2 separate regions of the Homo sapiens genome follow, and region 1 is linked to region 2. Evidence: fine-mapped QTL for protein levels in blood plasma. A gene starts in region 2. The other region holds a variant in brackets. All regions are shown on one strand. Distances are from middle to middle.

What was found. PIP is the posterior inclusion probability: the model's chance that the variant is causal. The UK Biobank Pharma Proteomics Project read protein levels with antibody pairs (Olink). The fine-mapping took linkage between variants from a reference panel, not from the people measured, so its PIPs are less certain.
Region 1: its variant is fine-mapped to the plasma level of the SH3BP1 protein (UK Biobank, PIP above 0.99).

The regions. Positions count from the first base shown.
Region 1 is chr22:37,650,458-37,658,115 of GRCh38, forward strand. It overlaps SH3BP1 (SH3 domain binding protein 1), which reads left to right. Exons shown (of 18, transcript NM_018957.6): 16 at 85-268; 17 at 3,322-3,416; 18 at 4,815-5,660. The coding sequence ends at 5,227. It overlaps PDXP-DT (PDXP divergent transcript), which reads right to left. Exons shown (of 6, transcript NR_109952.1): 2 at 1-255. Among named protein-coding and RNA genes, the nearest start is that of PDXP-DT, 4.1 kb to the right of the region's middle. The variant C/G (reference allele first, on the strand shown) is at 2,702.
Region 2 is chr22:37,634,315-37,642,499 of GRCh38, forward strand. SH3BP1 (SH3 domain binding protein 1) reads left to right here and starts at 5,355. Exons shown (of 18, transcript NM_018957.6): 1 at 5,355-5,532; 2 at 6,812-6,854; 3 at 7,060-7,164. The coding sequence starts at 5,474. It overlaps PDXP-DT (PDXP divergent transcript), which reads right to left. Exons shown (of 6, transcript NR_109952.1): 6 at 7,518-8,185. RefSeq lists an enhancer at 24-113 and silencers at 4,028-4,322, 4,953-5,102, 5,133-5,572.

The DNA.
Region 1 (7,658 bases), 16 kb after region 2:
AGGGGAAGGGGAAACGGTCCCGGCCAGTGGAGTGAGGAGCCTGGCGCGGTCTCTGAGAGCCGTCTCCGCTCCTTCTGTCTCCAGACATCAACTTCAACGTGTCAGGCCTCTTCTCAGCTGTTACCCTCCAGGACACAGTCAGTGACAGGCTGGCCTCTGAGGAACTTCCGTCCACTGCCGTGCCCACCCCAGCCACCACCCCGGCTCCGGCTCCGGCTCCAGCTCCAGCTCCGGCCCCAGCCTTGGCTTCAGCAGCTACCAAGGAAAGGTGAGGACTGAGGGGCTTGAATGGCTCCTGTGGTACTCCCACAATCAGCCTGCCTGAGGCGCCATGTCTCAGAGCTGGAAGCTGAATTTTTGGAAATGTAATTATTAGTGTTTTCATCCCAAAGACCGGATCTCCTAGTTTGGAGAGGGTGGGGCAGAGACTCAGAGGCGGAATTTGTCTCAGCCACTGATGTGTGCCCTATTCATCATGTAGCAATTTCCTGAGCACCTACTATATGCCAGGCTTTGTTTCCAGTCCTAGGGAACTCAAGAGATGATCATTTTGGAATCTATAAATACCTTCCAGTTTTGTTTTGTTTTTTTTTTAAGACAGAGTCTCACTCTGTCGCCCAGGCCAGAGTGCAGTGGCACAATCTTGGCTCACTGCAACCTGTGCCTCCCAGGTTCAACTGAGTCTCATGCCTCAGCCTCCCGAGTAACTGGGATTACAGGTGAGTGCCACCACACCTGTCTAATTTTTGTATTTTAAGTAGAGATGGGGTTTCGCCATGTTGGCCAGGCTGGTCTTGAACTCCTGGCCTCAAATGATCCACCCACCTTGGCCCCTGAAAGTGCTGGGATTACAAGTGTAAGCCACTGCACCCAGCCTCTTTTTTTTTTTTTTTTCTGAGATGGAGTTCACTCTGTTGCTTAGGCTGGAGTGCAATGGCGAGATCTTGGCTCACTTGCAGCCTCCCGGGTTCAAGCAATTCTCCTGCCTTAGCCTCCCGAATAGCTGTGACTTCAGGCGTGCACCACCATAGCCGGCTAATTTTTGTATTTTCAGTAGAGACAGGGTTACCCCATGTTGGCCAGGCTGGTTTTGAACTCCTGGCCTCAAGCGATCCGCCTGCCTCAGTCCCCCAAAGTGCTGGGATTACAGGCATGAGCCACAGTGCTTGGCCACCGTCTTCTCTTTGATCGTTTAAATCTGGAAGGGCTTCGTGGTACCGTGGTGCCTCCATACCAAGCAGCTACTATTCAGGATACCACAGAGCACTGCGGCTCACACCTTGAATTTCCTGATGAGCAAGACAAATGCTCACATTTCAGGGCACAGGGAGAGAGAGAGACAGCATCAAGCACAGCCACCAGTGCGTTCTCTCTATAGTGTCAGGTGGAGAGGCGCTGCTAAGGGAGGGGGAGCAGGTTAAGGGGGAGCGTGGGGGCTACTTTAGCTGTGGGGCCAGGAAAGACCTCGCTAAGGAAGAAACGACCAAGCAGAGACCCGAAGGCAGTGAGGAATGAGCCTAGGACCCCCTCTGCTTCTCACCCACTCTCTGGCTTCCAGTGGCCAAAGCATCTCATAAAGATCACGTGGCCCGGCACGGTGGCTCACGCCTGTAATCCCAGCACTTTGGGAGGCCGAGGCAGGCGAGATCGAGACCATCCTGGCTAACACGGTGAAACCCCGTCTCTACTAAAAATACAAAAAATTAGCTGGGCATGTTGGTGGGCGCCTGTAGTCCCAGCTACTCGGGAGGCTGAGGCAGGAGAATGGTGTGAACCCAGGAGGCAGAGCTTGCAGTGAGCCAAGATTGCGCCACTGCACTCCAACCTGGGCAACAGAGCGAGACTCCGTCTCAAAAAAAAAAAAAAAAAGATCACTTGGAGGCAGATTGGGCAACATAGCAAGGCTGTGTCTCTACAAAAAATAAATGAGGTCGGTGTGGTGGTGCACACCTGTGGTCCCAGCTACCCAGAAGGCTGTGGTGGGAGGATTTCTTGACCCTAGGAGGTCGAGGCTGCAGTGAGCAATGATTGTGCCATTGCACTCAGCCTGGGCAACAGAGTGAGATCCTTTCTCAAAAAGAAATGGCCAGGTGTGGTGGCTCACGCCTGTAATCCCAGCACTTTGGGAAGCCAAGGCAGGTAGATCACGTCAGGTCTGGAGTTTGAGACCAGCCTGGCAAACATGGTGAAATCCCATCTCTACTAAAAATGCAAAAAATTAGCCAGGCATGGTAGTGCGCACCTGTAATCCCAGCTACTCGGGAGGCTGAGGCAGGAGAATGGCTTGAACCGGGGAGGCAGAGGTTGCAGTGAGCCAAGATCGTGCCATTGCACTCCAGCCTGAGCAACAAGAGTGAAACTCCATCTCAAAAAAAAAAAAAAAAAGAAAAAGAAATGGCCGGGTGTGGTGGCTCACACCTGTAATCCCAGCACTTTGGGAGGCTGAAGCAGGTGGATCACTTGAAGTCAGGAGTTTGAGACCAGCCTGGCCAACATGGTGAAACCCCATCTCTACTAAAAATGCAAAAAATTAGCAGGGCATGGTGGCGCACGCCTGTAATCTCAGCTACTCAGGAGACCAAGACAGGAGAATCCCATGAACCCAGGAGGCGGAGGTCACAGTGAGCCAAGATCATGCCATCGCACTCCAGCCTGAGCGACAGAGCGAGACTTCTCAACAACAATAACAAAAAAAAACAAG[C/G]CTAGGTGGCGCACACTTGTAATCCCAGCACTTTGGGAGGCCGAGGTGGGCAGAAGATCGCTTGAGACCAGGAGTTCAAGAACAACATGACAAAACCCCGTCTCTACTACAAAAAAACAACAACAAAAAAATCTGGGCATGGTGGTGTGTGCCTATAATCCCAGCTACTCCAGAGGCTGAGGCAGGATAATTGCTTGAACTTTGGAGGTGGAGGCTGCAGTGAGCCAAGATCGCACCACTGCACTCCAGCCTGGGCGACAGAGTGAGACTCCATCTCAAGAAAAAAAACCACATGGAGGCCCTGAGCTGAGGCAGAGGTCAGGCCCTATGTCCCACCTCCCATCCTGGCCCTACCTACCAGGCAGGTGGGGCTCCCTCCTGGTCCCTAGAGGAACATGGACTCTGTCACAGGGTCACAAAGCAGCCAGGGGCTCAGTGGATGCAGACCCCAACCAATGCCAGAAGCATCTTCTGGGAGGGGTGCGTGGCATGGGGACAGAGTGATAGAGAGCGAGTGCTGGGAGGATCCGGACTCCACCTGGCAGCTGGAGACTCCTCAGGATTCCATGAGACTTCTGGGAGGTGGCTAAGTCTGCCCCATCCTCTCCTTCCCTCTGCAGGACAGAGTCTGAGGTGCCTCCCAGACCAGCCTCCCCCAAGGTCACCAGGAGTCCCCCGGAGACAGCTGCCCCAGTGGAGGACATGGCTCGGAGGAGTGAGTTGGCTGTGGGAGGGGAGGAGGGGACAGAGGGTGGGCGGGGAGAGGGGACAGGCAGTCCCAGGTCCTCCTATCTTTTTAGGCAGCCAGGGGAGGCCAGGAGTCAAGGTGATAAAGAGCCCAGGTCTTGCCACCTGGCACTCTGGGTTTAGATTTGACCTTGGGCAGGTGAGTTCACCTGTCTGAGCCTCACCTTCCTCCTCTGTGTAATGGGACAGTGTCTGCACTTACCTTATGGGGCTGCATGGAGCCTGCAGTGGTGCTGCAGGAAGAGTGCCTGGCCCTGGCACACAGCACGTGCCCACTAAGGGGGAGCCGGCGTGAGTACTGGGGTACTGGAGTCCCGTCCCTCCAGAAGCCCAGAGGTCACAGACTACAGTGGAAGGAGGGAGTCTTCAAAGGGCAGTGAAGGGGCTGGGCACAGTGGCTCACACATGTAAACCCAGCACTTTGGGAGGCTGAGGCGGGTGGATCACTTGAGGCCAGGAGTTCAAGACCAGCCTGGCCAACATGGTGAAACCTCACCTCTACTAAAAATACAAAAATTAGCTGGGCATGGTTGCGGGTGCCTATCATCCCAGATACTTAGGAGGCTGAGGCAGGAGAATCACTTGAACCCGGGAGGCAGAAGCTGCAGTGAGCAAAGATCACGCCACTGCACTCCAGCCTGGGTGACAAGAATGAGACTCTGTCTCAAAAAAAAAAAAAGAAAAAAGGCAGTGGCAGTGAAGGAGAGGAGGTGGCAGGGGTGGGAAGAAACCAGGGGCCTCCTTCTGAGCCCCTCTGGCACACTCACCTGTCAGTTTGGCCCAGAGCTGACCAGGTGAGAGAGTGACTGACACTCAGTGGAGGCAATGAGCAGTGGACAGCCAGGAATAGGCGGAACAGCTCTGGGAGCCTCGTGACCAGGGCTGGTAGGTAGTCTACAGTAAAATAAAAATGAACAAGATAGGCCGGGGACAGTGGCTTACACCTGTCATCCCAGCACTTTGAGAGACCGAGGCAGGAGGCTAGCTTGAGCCCTGGAGTTCAAGACCAGCCTGGACAACACAGCGAGACCCTGTCTCAAAATTTAAGAACTTTTAAAAATTCAAAATAAATGGGCAAGATAATTTCAGAGAACAAAAAGTCCTGCGAAGAAAATACATCTGGAAAATGTGACGGAGCAGCTGGGGTGGGGCATGGGGTGGGACTCTAACTAGGGTGCTCGGGGAGGGCCTCCAAGGGGGCAAAGGGCACAAGGAGAGGCCTAGACGATGAGGAGCCAGCCGCAGAAACGGTGTTCCCGGCAGAGGGAACAGCAGATGCAAAGGTTGTGAGGGGGCACGGAGCTTGGTGGATTCACCACAGGCCACGTGGACACTCAGCCTCCCTCACCCTTTCCTTCCTCAACAGCCAAGCGCCCGGCGCCAGCCCGGCCCACCATGCCGCCCCCCCAGGTCTCCGGCTCCCGCTCCTCCCCTCCAGCCCCGCCCTTGCCCCCTGGCTCTGGCAGCCCTGGGACCCCCCAAGCCCTGCCCCGACGTCTGGTTGGCAGCAGCCTCCGAGCCCCCACAGTGCCACCCCCGTTACCCCCCACACCCCCTCAGCCTGCCCGGCGCCAAAGCCGGCGTTCACCAGCCTCCCCCAGCCCGGCCTCCCCAGGTCCAGCCTCCCCCAGCCCAGTCTCTTTGAGTAACCCTGCACAGGTGGACCTGGGGGCTGCCACAGCAGAGGGAGGAGCCCCTGAGGCTATCAGTGGGGTCCCCACTCCCCCAGCTATCCCCCCTCAGCCCCGCCCCAGGAGCCTTGCCTCAGAGACCAACTGAGTGGCTGGTTTCTCCCTAAGCAGCCCTCAGCACCCCCTCCCTCCCCACCTGGCCCTCCCAGGACAGCTCTCGCCCCCCACAAAGGGGCATGGGCCTCCAGCCTTTGCCCACAAGTGCCTCAGTGCCCACTGGGTCGGCCCCCATGGCCAGGAGGGCTCAGGACAATCCTCTATTTCCTGACCTTTTCCTCGTCCACCCTGGGCTTGGGGACCCCCCCACCGGACTCTCCACTCTCCGGCAGGTCCTAGGGGAGCCACCGGAAGGAAGGAGAGGTTTGCCTGCTCCTACGGGACTGATTCTTCTCTTGCCGACATGTTTTTTGTAAGGCTGGTAAATAAATTATTTTGGACAAAACTGGAGCAGCTGCCCAAATGATAGTTTTATTTTCTGTCCTTGAAATAAAGAAGCCAATTTTATAAAGGGGAAAACAATACATATTCTTTGCCTCCTTTCTTCCTGTCTGAAGTGAGATCACAGCAGACATTTTTAGAGCTTTCTCTGCACTACATGCTGTGCTGTTCTGTGGATGATTTCCACTTAATCTTCTCCTACTGCAGGAAATACCATTACCTCTTAGCAGTGAGGAGACTGAGGCCCAGACAGAAGTGACCTGCCAAGGTCACACGGCAGTCAGGCAGGGGCCTGGGATTAGAGCCTAGGTCTGACTCCAAAGCCTGGCTTGTCCCTCACATTCTGGGCAATTTACTTAACTTCTTGGTATCCCTTTTCCTCATTTGTGAAACTTTATAACAATTCCCTCCACAGAGGTATTGCTCTCCATTGAAAACCAAAGCACCACCCTTGGCCCACAGAAGCCCCTACCGCTCCCACTGTTTCCTGGACCCCTCACTCTCCTTCCGGGAGGAGGCTGGGAAGCCTCCCCAAGGAGCAGGGATGGATCTGTCCTCAAACCTTCCCTAAATCTGCTCTGTGCCAGGCCCTGAGCTAGCTCCAAGACTTAACCCTACACCCAAAGAGTTCCCAAACAGACAGGCAGAAGCAACCATTAGAATCAAGTGTCTGGCCAGGCACGGTGTCTCATGCCTATAATCCCAGCACTGGGAGCCTGAGGCAGGAGGATCACTTGAGCCCAGGAGTTCTAGACCAGCCTGGACAACATAGTGAGACCCTGTCTCTACAAAAAAAAAAATTTTAATTAACTGGGTGTAGTGGCGTGTGCCTGTAGTCTCAGCAACTAGGAAGGCTGAGGCAGGAGGATCGCTTGAGCCCAGGAGTTGGAGGCTTCAGTGAGCAGTGATCATGCCACTGCACTCCAGCCTGGGTGACGGTGTAAGACCCTGTCTCAAAAACAAAAAAAATCAAGTGTCATTGCACTGGGAGCCCATATTAGCCAAGTTAGGGGTGGCCATATAACCTAGACTCATGGTATGGGGTGGGTGGTTAAGAACGGCTTCCTGGAGAAGGTGATATTTAAGGGAAGTCTTTCAGGAGCTGACCTGAAGGTGAATTTTGTTTATTTTTATTTATTTTATTTATTTTTTATTTTTTGTTTATTTTTTTTTGAGATGGAGTCTCGCTCTGTTGCCCAGGCTGGAGTGCATTGGCACGATCTCAGGTCGCTGCAAGCTCCGCCTCCTGGGTTCAAGCAATTCTCCTGCCTCAGCCTCCCGAGTAGCTGGGACTACAGGCACCCGCCACCACGCCTAGCTAATTTTTTTCTTTTTTTTTTTTTTTTTTTTTGTATTTTTAGTAGAGACGGGGTTTCACCGTAGCCAGGATGGTCTCGATCTCCTGACCTCGTGATCCGCCCACCTCAGCCTCCCAAAGTGCTGGGATTACAGGCGTGAGCCACCGAGCCCGGCCCTGAAGGTGAAATTTTTAAAGGAAAAAGGAACATTCAGGCCAAGGAGACTATCTATGCAAAGGCCAGGAGCAAAAGGCTTAGGGCACTTGGGGAATAGGAGCTAGTTGAGCTTCCAAGGTTGGGTACAAGGTACAGTTTTTCCCAAGTCGTTGGAGCTCCAGTTGCTCCTGGGGGTCACAGCCTTATCTGAAGTTGGCAGACAACTTCAAAACTGTGACACCACAGCTCACAATTCATTCATCCCCACACTGCAGACCAGTGGCTCCTCAAAGGTCCCAAGACCTGTGGTTGCTTCCAGATCACAAGGCCTCCTCCCTAAGACAGGGACCCAGCCAACCTGGGTCACCCCATTACTATTCTGGGCAATTGGCCACGACCATTCTGGATCCTGCCCTCCCGGGGCGTGCTGCAGTGACAGCCTACCAGCCTCTAGCCCAGTGCTTCCCTACCCTATCCTAGCTCACGGTAGAATCCCTGGAATTAAACCAACTAACCAACAAACCAAAAAATGCCCAGTCTTCACCCAAAACACTTACATGAGGATCTGTCCTGCTACACATCGGTGATTTCAAAAGCATTTGTCAAGACATTGAACTGTACATTTAA
Region 2 (8,185 bases):
TTTCACTTTGTCTAATCTAGTGTTTCCCAATCTGAACTTGGCCGCTGAACCCTTCTCCTTAGATATAGTTGTGACATGCTGGAGAATTGCCCAGCACACCCGCATCCCAGCGTGTGTGCTCTTTAACACTCATCAGCAAGCAAGGGGCCCCTCTCTGCTGGGCCCACACTGAAAGCGCAGGCTGAGAGCTCCTCCATGTCCGCCTTACTGCTGAGGGGACAAGAGGCATTAGCTGCACCCTGCGGGAGCCTCCTATCAGATCCCTACAGTGGGACTCCCACCCTGGCACAGCCCTCCAGACAGAGGCTGGCCCCTGGAGGCTTCCAGACACCCTGTCCCAGCCACGTGGCCTCGTTCCTGTTCCCCTTCCCTACCCTGCAGGACTCGCCTCCACACTTGTGATGTCTCCTGAAGATAACTCCGGTTGGAAGTTTCTTCTACCTGAAATGAAACCATAACCCCTGCAGCATCCACTTGGGGTGCCAGAGTCCCACCTCCAGCACAGTCTTCATTACTGGCCATGGCAGGGAGGAGTACAGGTTGGCATGGGGAACAGGTGGGACTGTGAGCTGGGAGTCTGGGGGCTGGTTCTGGCTGGGTCACTGGCTTGCTGTGTGATTTTGAGGAAGATGCTTTCCTTTCTGGAAAAGGGGAGAGGGACTCAATGAGCTATAAGGTCCCTCTGAGGAGTCCTTGGACAAAGGAGCCAGGCTGTCAGCTTTGGAGTGACCCAGGATATTCCGGGGACGGGAAGGTGGGGTCCCTTCAGCCTTTGGACCTTGTCCCTTGCCTTGTCCTTAACCCACCCATCCTGTCAGTCATGCCAGTGTTTCCTGAGCAGCCCCTGGGCCAGCCCCTGTCCTAAGAGTTCACAAGCTGGCAAGGACTTGGGAGCCAGTGTGGCACCCTGAGAGCAAAGACATAAGGTACCACAGAAGCCCTGCATCTGTCTGAGAGTCTGGGGTGGGTTCTAACCAGAGGAAAGGACCCTGGGCCTCCACTCCCTGGAGGAGTCCTTCCCCAAATACCGTGTTGCTGCACAGAGGTCCGGGCCACTGCGCTCTGCAGTCTCAGGGGCTGGGATGCAGTGCACTGGGGAGGCGTGTGCTCTGTCTCTTGAAGGGTGACCCCCAGTGCCATGCCAAGACCAGTGGGACTTCCCAGATCTCGAAGCCCCACTTCCATTTCTGTTGATTTGGCCGAGGCACCAGTTAATTTTGGTTTTCAGCAACCGCATCACACTGTTCGTCTGTTTATGGCAGCCAGGAGAAGTGGCAAGGGCCTGGGAGCCTGCTCCTGCCTAGTCGGTTTTTTGTTGTTGTTGTTTTTACGGAGTTTCGCTCTTGTTGCCCAGGCTGGAGTGCAATGGCACGATCTCGGCTCACCGCAACCTCTGCCTCCCGAGTTCAAGCGATTCTCCTGCCTCGGCCTCCCGAGTAGCTGGGATTACAGGCCTGCGCCACCACATCCTGCTAAGTTTGTATTTTTAGTAGAGACGGGGTTTCTCCATGTTGGTCAGGCTAACTCCCACCTAAGGTGATCCACCTGCCTTGGCCTCCCAAAGTGCTGAGATTACAGGCGTGAGCCACCACACCCGGCCCCCAGTCAGTTTTTTGGTTTTTTTGTTTGTTTGTTTGAGGTAAGGTCTCTCACCCAGGCTGGAGGGCAGTGTTGTAAACACAGCTCCCTGCAGCCCTGACCTCCTCGGCGCAGGCAATCCTACCCTCTTAGCCTCCTGAGCAGCTGGGACCACAGGCGCGTGCCACCATGCCCGGCTAATATTTTTATTTTTTGTATAGAGTTTCGCCAGGTTGCCCAGGCTGGTCTGGAACTCCTGAGCTCAAGCGATCCACCTGCCTCAGCCTCCCAAAGTGTTGTGGTGAGCTACTGTGCCTGGTCTGCCTGGTCTCTCGACATACCCCCTCCCCCAGTCTCTCTGGGCCTTGCAACCAGGGCACCAGCCCAGCAAGGCAGGCAAGAGGAGCCCCCGGACCTGATGCCTATAGCCTCCCATCTTAAGCCTCTGAAATGCCCTGTGAAATGGGAAGTGAGGCTCAGAGAAGTCACACATTATGGGCTGAGTCTGGGCCAGCAGTCTTGAGGTGTCTACCAGGATGGCACATTGCCCCATACCTCCCAAGTCCTCCCCCCAGCCTCTGTCGGGCTGTCCTCTGGGGCTGGGCTCAGGGTACACACTCCTCCAGGGCTATCAGGATTAAAATGGAGTTCTCAGCCTTAGGGCCACCCCAGGATTTCCTGGAAAGTCCTTTGGGCTTGGGGAGGGAGGTGAGGGAGTTTTTAGAGCCCCAGAGATCTCACTATGCCCCTAGCTGCTCTGGGTGGAAGTCCACACAGAGGGCAGCACCGAGGGATACTACAAACAGGCAATTTGTCAAAGTGTCTAAAATGGGATGTTTCTGCTCCTGCAGCCCCTGCTTCCGACCCCCGTTACCACCACCACTCAGCTGCTGACCTCCCTGCCCACATCCTGCTCAAGCCTTACTAGCACATGCTACCCAGACTGTCCCAGGCTTTCACAGACAAATCTGCACAGAGGCTGCCAGGCCCTCAAAGCAACCACAGGGGTTAAGGCAGAGCCAAGGGCCAGCATTTCTGGAGCTCCCAGGCAAGGCTGTCTGGGTCTGGCACAGCAGGAGAGCCCACGTGGGCTTAGGAGACTGTCAGATCTGTTTCCTAACTTGGCCTCTACCACTTTTCCAGCTGGGGACCTTAGGCCAGGGGCCTTGGGCTATTCACCTGTAAAATGGGGACAGTGATACCACCCTCACTGGAGGATATGCTATAGCACAACAAAAAGTCCCATTGTCCTAAGGCAGCTAGACACACACAGGGGTCGTTGGGGCAGGAATGGGGGTAAGGGGTCTTTCCATTCCTGACTTGGCAAGCTGAATAATGATGGTAACAAGAAACAACGCAAGGCACTTTATAAGCATCTTGCATCTATTAATTCACCTAACGCTTCTGTGAGGTAGGTACTATTATTTCCAATTTACTGAGGAGGATGCTGAGGTTCAGAGACGTGAAGTGTCCCACTTAAGGTTACCCAGCTAATGACAGCCACAGCCTGGCCAGCTAGCCTCCTCCACACCCTTAAGCTCTCTCTGTTCCTGCTGCCTGAGCCACTGTGACAGGCACACTGCCGGGTCCCAGAGGCTTTAGCAGGAGCCAGCTAAGACCAGCCTGGTAGAGAATGACCCAAGCCAACAGGCCCCTGGATTGGGGAAGGGCCCCACGAGGGGTTGGCTGGGGAGCTCTGAGGTACCCCTTCTGTGTCTGCAGTTTAGAAAGGCCATGATCCCAACACCCACTGATCAAAACTTCTGAGTCCGTAAGTCTCTGATTACAATTCCTTCTAAGGAACAGCCTATAACCCTAACCCAACCTTTGGGGAGTCCATCCTTCTATGATTCAACATCCAGGTGTGACAAGGGAGGGCCTAAAATCTACCCATCACCCAGCTAGGAGGCACAGCAGCCCCACCCGAATCCGACTCAAAGGCCCAGGGTGTCTCTCCTGCCCAGGACCCTTAGGTCTGGCTGGAGGGGAGTCTGGAGACCAGGGCAGGAGCGCGGGGCAAGAGCTCAGTTAGACTGATAATATGGCTCAGGTAGTTTCCACCACAGCTGCGGCTACAACCCACGTGTACTGACCCCTCACCAGGCCGGAGCTGGGGCTCAGGACTGGGCAAATCTAGGAGAGACAGAGGTGTAAGCCAAACCTTGCCTTCAAGGACTTTCAGACCAGCTACAGAACCAGACAAGCCCAGGCCCGGTGTGGTCTGGGCTGGAGGCTTGGCTGGAACAGAGCAGGGGCACCACATAGTCCAGAGACTTCCCGAGGGACAGGAAGGATGGCACCTGAGGTTCCCTTGCCATGCCACCCATAGTCACTGGCCAGCAGCCTTCCTGTTGGGAAAAGGGAGATGGGGGAGGGAACCTTGCCTGACATCTCATCCTGGCCTGAGCTTTGATCTTGGAGCCTCCCAACTTCCCACCAGGATTCCACACTCAGGTGGGCTCCCATCTGGGAGGCTCTGGCCATAGCAGGCAGCTGTTGGGTTCCCTTCTCAGCTCCTCCCACCCCCAATGAGTCCTGCCTCATTAGGGAGGAGAGAAGCAGCCAGTGAGTGTGCCAGGCCCTGGGCTAGGTGCTGGGAGTATGGAGATGTGTGGGGCCAAGGTCCTGCCTCTGAGAGGCGCCCAGTCTGCACCGGCACACAGTCTGCACCGGCACACAGTAGTGGCTCAAATAGTCTCAAACTAAACTGAAACTAACAAAGCAAAGTGCAGAGGGTGTGGCAGGACTCTGGGGCACACCCTCCCCTCTTCCCCACGCCTGCGGCTCCTGATGCCACAGGGGTGCAGGGTAAGGAGAGCCTACTGTTTCCTAAAGGCGCTCACATCTTGTAAAACCAGCAGTTATGGAGCACTTACTGTATGCCTAACTCTGTGTTGAGTGGAGGGCCAAAGAGGAGAACTACTGAGTTTGGGGGCAGTCAGAGCAGCACCTACATCATTGCCCTACAAGAAGGAAGGGGGACTGAGGCTGTTTGCCAGGAGGAATGAGAGGAGACGGGCTTCACAGATGGAGCAAACTGCCAGGAGATGTGGAGAACAGGGTGTCGCGAACCGCTCTGGGAGGGTTCCTGGTGGCTGAGGGGTGGCACGCACCTCCCTTAAAGGGAGCTGGCAGGGGTGTCTTGTCCACTCTGCAGAATGGGCAGGCCCAGGACAGCTGGCCCATCAGACCATTAGAAACAGCGAGTCCGGAGTTCCAGGGGCTTGTCCACGGCCACACAGCAGCCCGTGGCCCCAGGAAGCCAAAGCTCCCAGCCAGTCATCCAGTGGTGGGGGGTTTAGTTCCAGGGGGCCAGAGGTCCTCTGCGGAAGAGAGTGCAAGGCAGTATCCGCGGCAGGCCCAGAGAGGCCAGGACAGGTCAGAAAGGCCTACCCCTCTTTCGCTTGGTACCCTTTCCTCTTTGCGAGGGATGCAAAGGTTATTTATACTTCGGGTCTGCAGGCTGCGGGTGGGGCAGGCACCCCGCCTGGGGCGGGTTGCGGGCGCAGGGGCAGGAATGGGCTTACCTGCTTCCCGCCACCGGGGCTGGGCGGGGCGCTGCGGGGAGGAGGAGCCGGGCACAACCTGTGGACGGCCGCGGCCGGCGGACACACAGCAGCGGGGGCCCGGCCGGGGGTCGCCCGGGGGCCCGGAAGCCGGGGAAGAGCGAGGAAACCAACTTGGAGAGAGGAGTGACCTGGGGGCCGGGGGCGGAGTCGTGAGCGGGGGAGGAGAGAGCCGGCCGCCAGCAAGAGCCGCGCGGCGGCCCAGGAAGCGAGAGCGCCGCCCACCCATCCGGGGCAAGAGCCGCGCCGCAGGAGAGGCAGGCTGGACCGGGGGCTCCCCGGGCCCGCGACCCCCGCCGTGACCCCGCAGCCCCCAGCTCGCCCCCAAGATGATGAAGAGGCAGCTGCACCGCATGCGGCAGCTGGCCCAGACGGGCAGCTTGGGACGGTGAGTGTCACCCGCTTCCAGCCCCACTCTTACCCCGGCAGGACTTGAGGGGTCGTAAAAGGGTCGGGGGAGACGGGGGTGGGGGAGGCTGGGGACAGCTGGGCAGCCACCCTCTGAGCGGCCAGACTCCTGCTCTCTCTTCCTCCTCTCTGAACGCCGCCCCCGTCTCTCGGGCAGAGCTGGAGGAGCAAGGGTGGCCTTTGGGGGAAGGGATGCCCCCCCTTACCGGATTGGAGGGGGCTTCAGGCGGGAGAATGCTCTCTGCCCTAGGACGCTGGGACTTCTCTGCCTCCACGAGTCTCTAAGTGGATGGTCCTCCTGACCTCACTTGTCCCCTCTGGACAATGGGACAGTTCACCACCTCTGCTTGCTGGGCCGGGGAGGGAGGAGGGTCGATTAGGGCCACAGACCTGGGGCGAGGGGAGGAGATGGGTCCTGGCCTGGTGGGAGGAGGGGCCTGCCCCTGGCCTGCAGCGTCCCTCCCCCTCCCCCTCCCCCCAGCCCAGGGGCCTCCTGCTTCTGTCTCGTTTCTGCTTTTCCTGGACTCAGGTGGAAATATCCCCAGGTCTCCCAGCTCCCACCCCCAGCCTCTGAGCCGGTGGCACGGAGGCCGGAAGTTTGGGGAGCCTCTCAGAGCCTGTCTTCTCTGCTCCTCTTCCCCCAGCCTCAGGAGTTCCCCATTCTCTGGGTCCAGGGAGGGGACTGGGTGTCCAGAGACCTGGTTCTAGTCTCACACTGGCACAGATGCCTACATAGCCTGGACAGTCAGACCACCTTGCAGTGGGCCTTGGCATCCCCCATGTGTCCCCAGGTGGGGGCCAAGGGCCTGTGCACCCCTGCCCACAGCTGTAGTCCAGAGTGCTGTGTGACTGTGCCTAGGAGTCTGAGCTCCTGCACTTCCCGTTCTTGGGGCCAGCTAATACTCCTCATCCCGGGGTGGGCTGAGGATTTGGGAGTGGGCAGAAAAGAGGCTTCTGTGTCCCAAAGCTGGGCCCCGGGTGGGTCTCTCAGCCTCCCCTTTAGTTTCATCTGTCCGCCCTCTCTCAGGACACAGCCCTGGGTGGAGGAGGAAAAACCCATGTATCCTATTCCCACCCCCATGGAATGTGCTCCGACTGGGATGAAGCAACTGGGCCACCCAGGGCAGGCCTCAGCTGGGAGGGACAGTGGAAGCACTGGGGTCCAGGTGCCCTGCTGCGGGGAAGGGAAGTAGGGGGCGTTCTAACCCAGGCAGGCTCAGCAGAAGCACTCTCCCCCCCCCCCCCACCACTCCCCGCAGCACCCCGGAGACCGCTGAGTTCCTGGGTGAGGACCTGCTGCAGGTACGTGCCTGGGCCGGGCAGGTGGGAAGGCAGGCCTGTGCAGGCTGTCTCGGAGCAGAGGGCCGGGGCGGGGACGCCAGGTAGGGGCCTGGGTTGAGTCATTCCTCAAGCTGTTGGCCATGGGGTCCCCAGGGGACAGGAGAAAGTTTCCTGCTCAGGGGGAGACAGCCTCTCTTGATCCTTAACCTCCATACCTCCTTCCCAGGTAGAACAGCGGCTGGAGCCGGCCAAGCGGGCAGCCCACAACATCCACAAGCGGCTGCAGGCCTGTCTGCAGGGCCAGAGCGGGGCAGACATGGACAAGCGGGTGGTGAGTGGGGGGTCCCGGGAAGGAGGGGCCTGAGCAGGAGACTTCCATCCAATGGGGAAGCAAGGTCGGGGCTGGGGTTTCCTTGCCAGTCTGAGTGTCTGGCACCAAGGGCATGGAGACTGCTCTGTTCCAAGGCCCCTCTGGCACTGCACTCAAGAGGCCCTATACCTTCCCCATCACCTTTACCCCACTTCCCTGTGCACCAGTTCCCATAAGCCAAGGCCAGGCTTCTGACAGCACCTGAACTTCTCTGTCCAATCAGTGCGCAAGAGCAGGCTGTCAATGGGGCGGCCTCAGAGGGTTTCCTGAAGGAGGTAGCAATTGAGCTGGCTTTTGAGGGATACACGTTTATTAATCAAGAGGCAGCGTTTATTGGCTGATAACCGCCAGCTTGTTACTAACATATGAGTGCACTGTCTCATGGAACACTGGCACAACCCTAGGGGCAGGCATTGCTTTACACATGAGGAACTGGAGGCTCAGAGATAAAGTCACTTGTCCAAGGTCACATAGCTAGTAAGTGGCAGAACTGAGGTTTGAACCCTGGTCTCTGATCCCAGAGCAGGCATTCCCCGTAACTCCAGATGGGGTGGGAGTGTGGGGCCATGTTTTGGAATCAGTTGACAATTCAGTGTGGCCAAGGCAAGGAAATTGGGAGCCATAGAGCGTTTGAACTCAGCGGTGGCTAGGTCAGCCATATATACCCTGGGACAGGGGAAAGAGCTCCCGCTCCCATTCTCCCTCCACCTGTGTGACCTGGGGCAAGCTCCCTGCCCTCCCTGCATCTTAGTTTCCCAGTCTGCAGTAGGACTTGGTCATTCCTTCCTGCCCAGTCAAGTGGCTTCTGGGAAGAGGAAAGGGCACGCCAGATGGAGAGGGGCTCCATCCATGCTCTCAGGGAAATGTCACCCCCACCACGCCTTGTCATCTTGTTTCCACTCTCATCTGGGACTGTGGCCCTCCTGGGTTCCCTCCTCCCCTGCCCCAAGGGGCTGGCCTGGTGCTCAGGCAGGGTGGAGGG